Homo sapiens: one gene and its partner. The protein of the gene in region 1 purifies or fractionates together with the protein of each later gene. This does not show direct contact. Each region holds a gene or a part of one and is shown in the gene's direction. Other genes may lie near its edges. The genes, in order: SPTBN2 and CDK5RAP2.

Region 1 (3,812 bases):
TGGGTGCGGGAGCAGCAGCACCTCCTGGCCTCAGCCGACACGGGCCGAGACCTGACCGGTGCCCTCCGCCTGCTCAACAAGCACACAGCCCTGCGGGGCGAGATGAGCGGCCGGCTGGGGCCCCTGAAGCTCACCCTGGAGCAGGGCCAGCAGTTGGTGGCCGAGGGTCACCCTGGGGCAAGCCAGGCCTCTGCCCGTGCAGCTGAACTCCAAGCCCAGTGGGAGCGGCTAGAGGCCCTGGCCGAGGAGCGTGCCCAGCGGCTGGCCCAAGCCGCCAGCCTCTACCAGTTCCAGGCCGATGCAAACGACATGGAGGCCTGGTTGGTTGACGCACTGCGCCTGGTGTCCAGCCCCGAGCTGGGGCACGACGAGTTCTCCACGCAGGCTCTAGCCAGGCAGCATCGGGCCCTGGAGGAGGAGATTCGAAGCCACCGGCCAACCCTGGACGCCTTGAGGGAACAGGCAGCAGCCCTGCCCCCCACACTGAGCCGCACGCCCGAGGTGCAGAGCCGGGTGCCCACCCTGGAGCGGCACTACGAGGAGCTGCAGGCCCGGGCAGGCGAGCGAGCGCGGGCCTTGGAGGCAGCCCTGGCGCTCTACACCATGCTCAGCGAGGCCGGGGCCTGTGGACTCTGGGTGGAGGAGAAGGAGCAGTGGCTCAACGGGCTGGCCCTGCCTGAACGCCTGGAGGACCTGGAGGTCGTGCAGCAGAGGTAGGCCCCTCAGGCTCCTAGTGGGACCAGCCTTGGGAGGTGGGGGTGGGGGGGCCAGGATGTGGGTGGTGAGTCCCTCCATAAACTTCCTGCCTCACCCCTTTGAGTCTTAATGGTTGTCCATTTCTAGTTTTAACAAAAAATGTTAACCATACTCACAAGTAGAGACATTTCACCACAAACCCCTCTACACCCGTCACCCAGATTCAGTCATTGCCAACATCTTGCTCTATTTGGTTCTCTGCCCTTTTAAAAAGCAAATCCCCAAGATTAGCACATCCCTCCTACCTTCTTCAGGGTGTGCCCTTTAAGAAATACAAGGAAGCGGCCGGGCACGGTGGCTCACACCTGTAATCCCAGCACTTTGGGAGGCCGAGGCAGGCGGATCACGAGGTCAGGAGGTCGAGACCATCCTGGCTAACATGGTGAAACGCTGTCTCAACTAAAAATACAAAAAATTAGCCGGGCACAGTGGGGGGCGCCTGTAGTCCCAGCTACTCGGGAGGCTGAGGCAGGAGACTGGCATGAACCTGGGAGGCGGAGCTTGCAGTGAGCCGAGATCGTGCCACTGCTCTCCAGCCTTGGCGACAGAGCGAGACTGTCTCAAAAAAAAAAAAAAAAAAAAGAAAAGAAATACGAGGAAGCATTCTTACCTACAATATATTATTTTCAAATTGTCTGTGTGGACTTAAAATAGCTGAGGCTTTGAAGTTATAAACCTTTTAGACAGAGACACTAAAATAGTTTTATTTACAGAATAAATCTTCAAATCATTTATTCAATAATAAATCTTAAAAATTTTTTTATAGAACCACAATACCATTATCACATAGAACAAAATTAGGAATTTCTTTTTTTTTTGAGATGGAGTCTCACTCTGTCACCCAGGCTGGAGCGCAGTGGTGCGATCTCGGCTCACTGCATGCTCTGCCTCCCGGGTTCCAGCGATTCTCCTGCCTCAGCCTCCCAAGTAGCTGGGACTACAGGCACCCACCACCATGCCCAGCTAATTTTTTGTATTTTTTTATTAGTAGAGACAGGGTTTCACCATGTTAGCGAGGATGGTCTCGATCTCCTGACCTCGTGATCCACCCGGCTTGGCCTCCCAAAGTACTGGGATTACAGGCATGAGCCACTGCGCCGGGTCAGGAATTTCTTGATATGATCTATGATCAATGTGTAATCAAATTTCCTGGTGTTTAAAAAAATATAATTAGGTCAGGCCTGGTGGCTCACACCTGTAATCCCAGCACTTTGGGAGGCCAAGGCAGGAGTATCACTTGATTCCAAGAGTTCATAACCAGCCTGGGCAACATAGTGAGACTCCACCTCTACAAAATTTTTTTTTTAATTAGCCAGGCATGGTGGCAGGCGCCTGTAGTCCCAGCTACTGGGGAGGCTGAGGCAGGAGGATTGCTTGAGCCCAGAGGTCGAGGCTGCAGTGAGCTGAGATCGTGCCACTGCACTCCAACCTGGGTGACAGAGTAAGACCCTGTCTCAAAAAAATAAATAAAAATAAAAATGTAATTAAAGATTTTTTTTAGTTTTCAAGGTATCCTAATGTAGAGGTTAACAAACTGCAACCCTTGGGCCAAATCCAGCCTGCTGCCTGTTTCTGTAAATAAAGTTTTTTTTGGTTTTTTTTTTTTTTTTTTTTTTTGAGACGGAGTCTTGCTCTGTCCCCCAGGCTGGAGTGCAGTGGCACAATCTTGGCTCACTGCAAGCTCCGCCGCCCGGGTTCACGCCATTCTCCTGCCTCAGCCTCCCAAGTAGCTGGGACTACAGGCACCCGCCACCACACCTGGCTAATTTTTTGTATTTTTAGTAGAGACGAGGTTTCACCGTGTTAGCCAGGATGGTCTCGATCTCCTGACCTTGTGATCCACCCATCTCAGCCTCCCAAAGTGCTGGGATTACAGGCGTGAGCCACCATGCCCGGTCTGTAAATAAAGTTTTACTGGAACAGAGCTACACTCGCCCTTTTGCGTATTGCCCGTGGCTGCTTTCAGGCTACAGCAGCAGGGCTGAATAGTTGCCGCAGCAGCTGCATGGCTCACGAAGCCTATAATATTTACCATCAAGCCCTTCACAGAAAACATTTGCAGACCCTGCCCTATTAGAACATCAAATGTCGGCCAGGCGAGGTGGCTCACGCCTGTAATCCCAGCACTTTGGGAGGCCAAGGCGGGTGGAGCATGAGGTCAGGAGTTCAAGACCAGCCTGGCCAAGATAGTGAAACACCCGTCTCCACCAAAAATACAAAAATTAGCTAGGCTTGGTGGCGGGCACCTGTAATCCCAGCTATTCGGGAAGCGGAGGCAGAAAATTGCTTGAACCCGGGAGGCGGAGGTTGCAGTGAGTCGAGATTGCACCACTACACTCCAGCCTGGGTGACAGAGCGAGACTCCATCTCAAAAACAAAACATAAAATGTCCCTGGAAGAAGTTATCCTTCACATTTTCATCACTCAGACAAATATTTTTGGTTATTACTTCATTTTCTAACACATATTAGTGGGATGAGACCCAGATAGGCAGCTAAGGGGGAAGTCCCAGGAGGCTGAGCAGCTCTGATAAAGGGTTGGCCCCATGCCAGGGTCTAGTTTGACTTGTGTGTCTGTTCCTGACCTTTACCTTTCACCATCTTTTGAGCATTTCTAGCGATGACAGTTATTCTGCTTGTTTTGGGGGAGTTGTGGGTTCCTTCCTTGATGCACAGATACTATGAACCTCATAGGCTGAGAGGCAGAGAGACTCCTGCAGATAAGCCTCCTGGTGAAGGAGACACCCTCCTGGGTGTTTAAGAGAGGTGGACTTAGGTGGACTGGGCACATCGCTGCCTCCCACAATTCACGCCTGGCTCTTCCACCCTCTCAGGTTCGAGACCCTGGAGCCTGAAATGAACACCCTTGCAGCACAAATCACCGCGGTGAATGACATTGCCGAGCAGTTACTGAAGGCCAACCCCCCAGGCAAAGACCGCATTGTCAACACCCAGGAGCAGCTCAACCACAGGTGGGTTTGGGAGGGCAGGACCAGGAAACTGACAGAAAAATGAAGCAATGGGGATGGCAGTGAGAGGCAGGTTTTGTAGGGCCTG
Region 2 (3,812 bases), on another chromosome or scaffold:
CATCATACATGTTCCCTGTGCTTTCACATGGGCTTCCTAATGATTGTTTGCAGGCTATTCTCAGTCACCAATCCATGACCCCGTTGATTTATTAAAGTGGTCTCTGATTTGGAGCCATAATAGACATCAATGTTAATATGCTTTTTGCTGTTAAATAATATTCTTAGGAGAAAACCCTACAAGGGGAACCTCATAAGTTTGGAAAGGTGCCATATTGCCACCTTCTAAATAGTCTGTACATCAGCAGTGTACAAAGGTAGTGGTTTTTGTGTGACCTCAGCATTGGGCATTACTATTTTCAACACGGGTCTGCACCTGGCCCTTTTTAAGGCTTTGAGGAGATGGGATTCAGGAACTTGTGGGGTAGGCTAGGGGAGTTTGAAGCAGGGAGAACAGTTCTGTGCTTGGGGTACCCAGGAAGGAGAGTTGGGTAGCTGAAGTGAGGAGGCCATCAAACAGCCTTTACCTGCTTTTGAAATTTGCCGAAAGCAGCCCTCATCATGCCTGGCAAGAGGCATCCAGGAGAGCATTCAGAATTCACAGTGCTGCCTCAGCAGAAAAGTTTTATAATTTCCTTGAGTCAAGATCAGAATTATAGGCAGCAGCATTTCTTCCTTTGCAAAAGACTTCTCAGGTCTGTATTTAAGTGCATCTGTTTTAAAAATTCTGTTCTAAAGGCTGATGTCTTTCACTGAGAGTGATTCCTCTTGGGGCCAGCTCTATGGAGCTGACCTCCTGGCTCCTTGGCCTTAGGAACTGTAGCACACCCCTGGGAAATGCTGGAGTGCAGTCAGCCCACCGCCCAGTGGTGCAGGAGCTCGGAAGGGGGATCCTAAGCCCTAGGCTTCCTTGCTCTGTGCCACTGACATGCTGGGTTATGCTGGACAGATCACTTTCTATCTCTGCCCCTTGGTCTCCCCTTCCATGAAATCTGAATTACAGTGTGTTTTGCCCACTGAGCTATTGAGTCCAATAGCTTTTCATATGTGAAAGTGCTTTCCAAATTATAACGTGTTGCACAGGTCATCTGTACAGCATCTATTGGTTTTGCCTCCTTACAGTGTTGCAAATACATCACCCCCCAGATCCTATTGTGGGTTACTCTCATCTCTAGCTTAGGTTAGTGTGGCAGCCTCCAGACTTACTCTTTCAGTACAAAATACAGACCTCAGCTTGACATTGCCTTGCCCAAAGCCCTTGAGTGGGCCCCTCAGTCCTCTTGGTTCTGGCCTTGCATTCTACTTTGTCCTTCCCTGCACCCGGGCCTTGGGTCTATGAACTGCTTATTTCTCCCTGAGCGATGATTCCACTCTTTGTCCCACTGTCTGCCTCTCACCTGCCCATTGTGCTGCCTGGCATTTCTTTCCCTCCTTCTTACCATAGGTCAGTCACAATCAGTCTTAAAACATAAGGTTTTAAAACGGGTATTAGCCTTTGGGAAGCCAAGTTGGGGGTAGTGCCCCTCACCTGAGCCCCAACAGCCTGTGTTTCCCTCCCTTGTCCTTGATCACACTAAAATAAAATTGCTTATTTACTTTTCTGCTGAGAGTTTTTCTAGGGAATGGACTGGGCCTGGTCACTCTGTCTCCCTGGTGTCCCACAAAGGTGGGCTTGGCAGGACAGAGGCCCAGTGAAGATTTGAAGGAATGCTGTGTGTGTATGGATAAGTGAATGTGAGGGGCTTGACTGTATTCTCTTTCAGTTCTCTCTTGAATGCTGACAACAGTGAAACTAACAGTTCTCGTGTTTTGCATTTTGTAGATGGTGACAAATATCCCATGGAAAGTGATAATTCATTTGATCTGTTTGATTCCTCCCAGGCAGTGACACCAAAATCAGGTACAAAGCTGAAGTCCAGGTAACTGTGGGAGCATTGGATGTGACAGTAAGACTTTTTAACTTGCAGAAAAGGGGGGTCCCTGGTCCCAACTCAGGAGGGTATTTGGTAAGGATTTGGGATTTCAAGTTCTCAGCATCCCCAGCTGGTGATCTTCTCCTTCAAGCCAGTTAATCCACTCCTAGGTGTTACCAAGGTTAGAACATCATTGGGTCCCTCTTGCCTTAGATTAAAATTGTGACCACCTTTGTGAGGCTTTCAAGGCCCTCCAGGATCCAGCTCCAGTGGGTCCGTCCAGCCTTATCCCTTAACCTGGTGTAGCCACACAGGGGTCACCATCCTGCAGACAGGCCCACACTTTCCTCTCACTGTGACTTTTAGACCCCCTTTGTCCCACTCTTTGCCGGTAGAAGTCCCGTTTCCTCAAGACTCATCATGAATACACATTTCTCTGTGACATGCCTTTGCTGCTGTCCTTGGTCAGAATGACTCATCATTCGTGTAATTCTTGCTACTTGCTCAATCCAGTTCAAATGCTGCTCCTTCTCAGAAGCCTTCCCTGTTCTCTCCCTCCCTGCACAGATAATTGTTTTTTCTGGCTCTGGCCCTTCATCACTCTGCTGTTGCACCTTCTGCAGTGTCTGTGTTCTGATCAGACTGTGGGCTACTGGAATGCAGGCACCAGCTTGAGTCATCCTTGTGAATCTGGGGTCTTCTGCCGAGTGGGTGGTTGATAAGTGTTGGTTGAGTTGACTTGAGCCTCTCCTACAAGATGACTCATAAGCCCAGTGTGGGGTAATATACAGAGGTCCAGGAGCGTGCCTCTTTTCCCCTCTGGGCTTGTGTTGGGTGGCATTTGGGCACGAGGGCCTCTTCTAGCCCTCCTAGCTAGCTTCAACATCATAAGCGTCTTGAACGCAGAGTGTTACCTGAAACAGATTTTACATCCTACTTCTCATTTTACAGTTTCAGAGACTCCTCCACTCTCTGGGAATGACACGGACTCCCTCTCCTGCGACAGTGGCAGTTCGGCAACTAGCACTCCGTGTGTGTCCCGCCTGGTCACTGGCCACCACCTGTGGGCCAGCAAGAATGGCCGCCATGTCCTGGGCCTGATTGAGGACTATGAGGCCCTGCTCAAACAGATCAGCCAGGGACAGAGGCTCCTTGCTGAAATGGACATTCAAACCCAAGAGGCTCCCAGCTCCACAAGTCAAGAGCTGGGAACAAAGGTAACCTGACCACAGAGCTGGGGGGCACAAGCTGCTCCCTGGGAGTGTCGGTGGAAGGGGGAGGGGAGTCAAATGGCGCAGTTGTCCTCATTAGGACCCTGAGAAGAGGGACCAGGAAGTGTGGCCTCAGAGAGCTCAGAGGTCAGGTCCAGTGTGGGGAACTATTGGTGGTGGCTGTGTTTGGTGGGGTTTGTGCCTTGTGTTCCTGCAACTGCTCCATGGGCTCTGCTGTCTTGTTCCCATGACGGCCTCTGTACATCTGGTCTCTCATCCATTCTTCTCTCCATCTGCACCCTGGTGTGTCTGTCCATTCATCTGCCCATCCACCTGGCTGTCGCCCATTATGAAGTGGAATTACTAGTTCAAAGGTTGTGAACTTTTTAGGGCTCTTGATGATAACTGTTGCTCCATTACTTTGCAAAACAATTCTATCTCTGTTCATGAACGTTTGTCTCACTACATTTTTGTTTTTGTTGAGGTTTTGTTGTTGTTGTGTTTTTTTTATTTTGAGACAGGATCTAGCTCTGTCACCCAGGCTGGAGTGCAGTGGCGCGATCATGGCTCACTGTAGCTTCGACCCCACCTCCTAGGCTCAAGCAATCCTCCTGCCTCAGCCTCCCAAGTAGCTGTGACCACAGGCGTGTGCCATCACACCTGGCTTTTAAAAAAAATTTTTTTTAGAGACAGGGTCTCACTCTGTTGCCCAGGCTGGCCTCGAACTCCTGGGCTCAAATGATCCTCCC

The links.
Region 2: the proteins of SPTBN2 (region 1) and CDK5RAP2 purify together in Homo sapiens (co-immunoprecipitation; one large-scale study listed by IntAct). This does not show direct contact.

Annotation. Positions count from the first base shown.
Region 1 is NC_000011.10:66,701,499-66,705,310, reverse strand, and holds part of SPTBN2 (spectrin beta chain, non-erythrocytic 2), read left to right. Parts: coding exon 1-713; intron 714-3,589; coding exon 3,590-3,727; intron 3,728-3,812. UniProt on the Homo sapiens protein: Probably plays an important role in neuronal membrane skeleton.
Region 2 is NC_000009.12:120,402,063-120,405,874, reverse strand, and holds part of CDK5RAP2 (CDK5 regulatory subunit-associated protein 2), read left to right. Parts: intron 1-1,761; coding exon 1,762-1,839; intron 1,840-2,803; coding exon 2,804-3,069; intron 3,070-3,812. UniProt on the Homo sapiens protein: Potential regulator of CDK5 activity via its interaction with CDK5R1. Negative regulator of centriole disengagement (licensing) which maintains centriole engagement and cohesion. Involved in regulation of mitotic spindle orientation.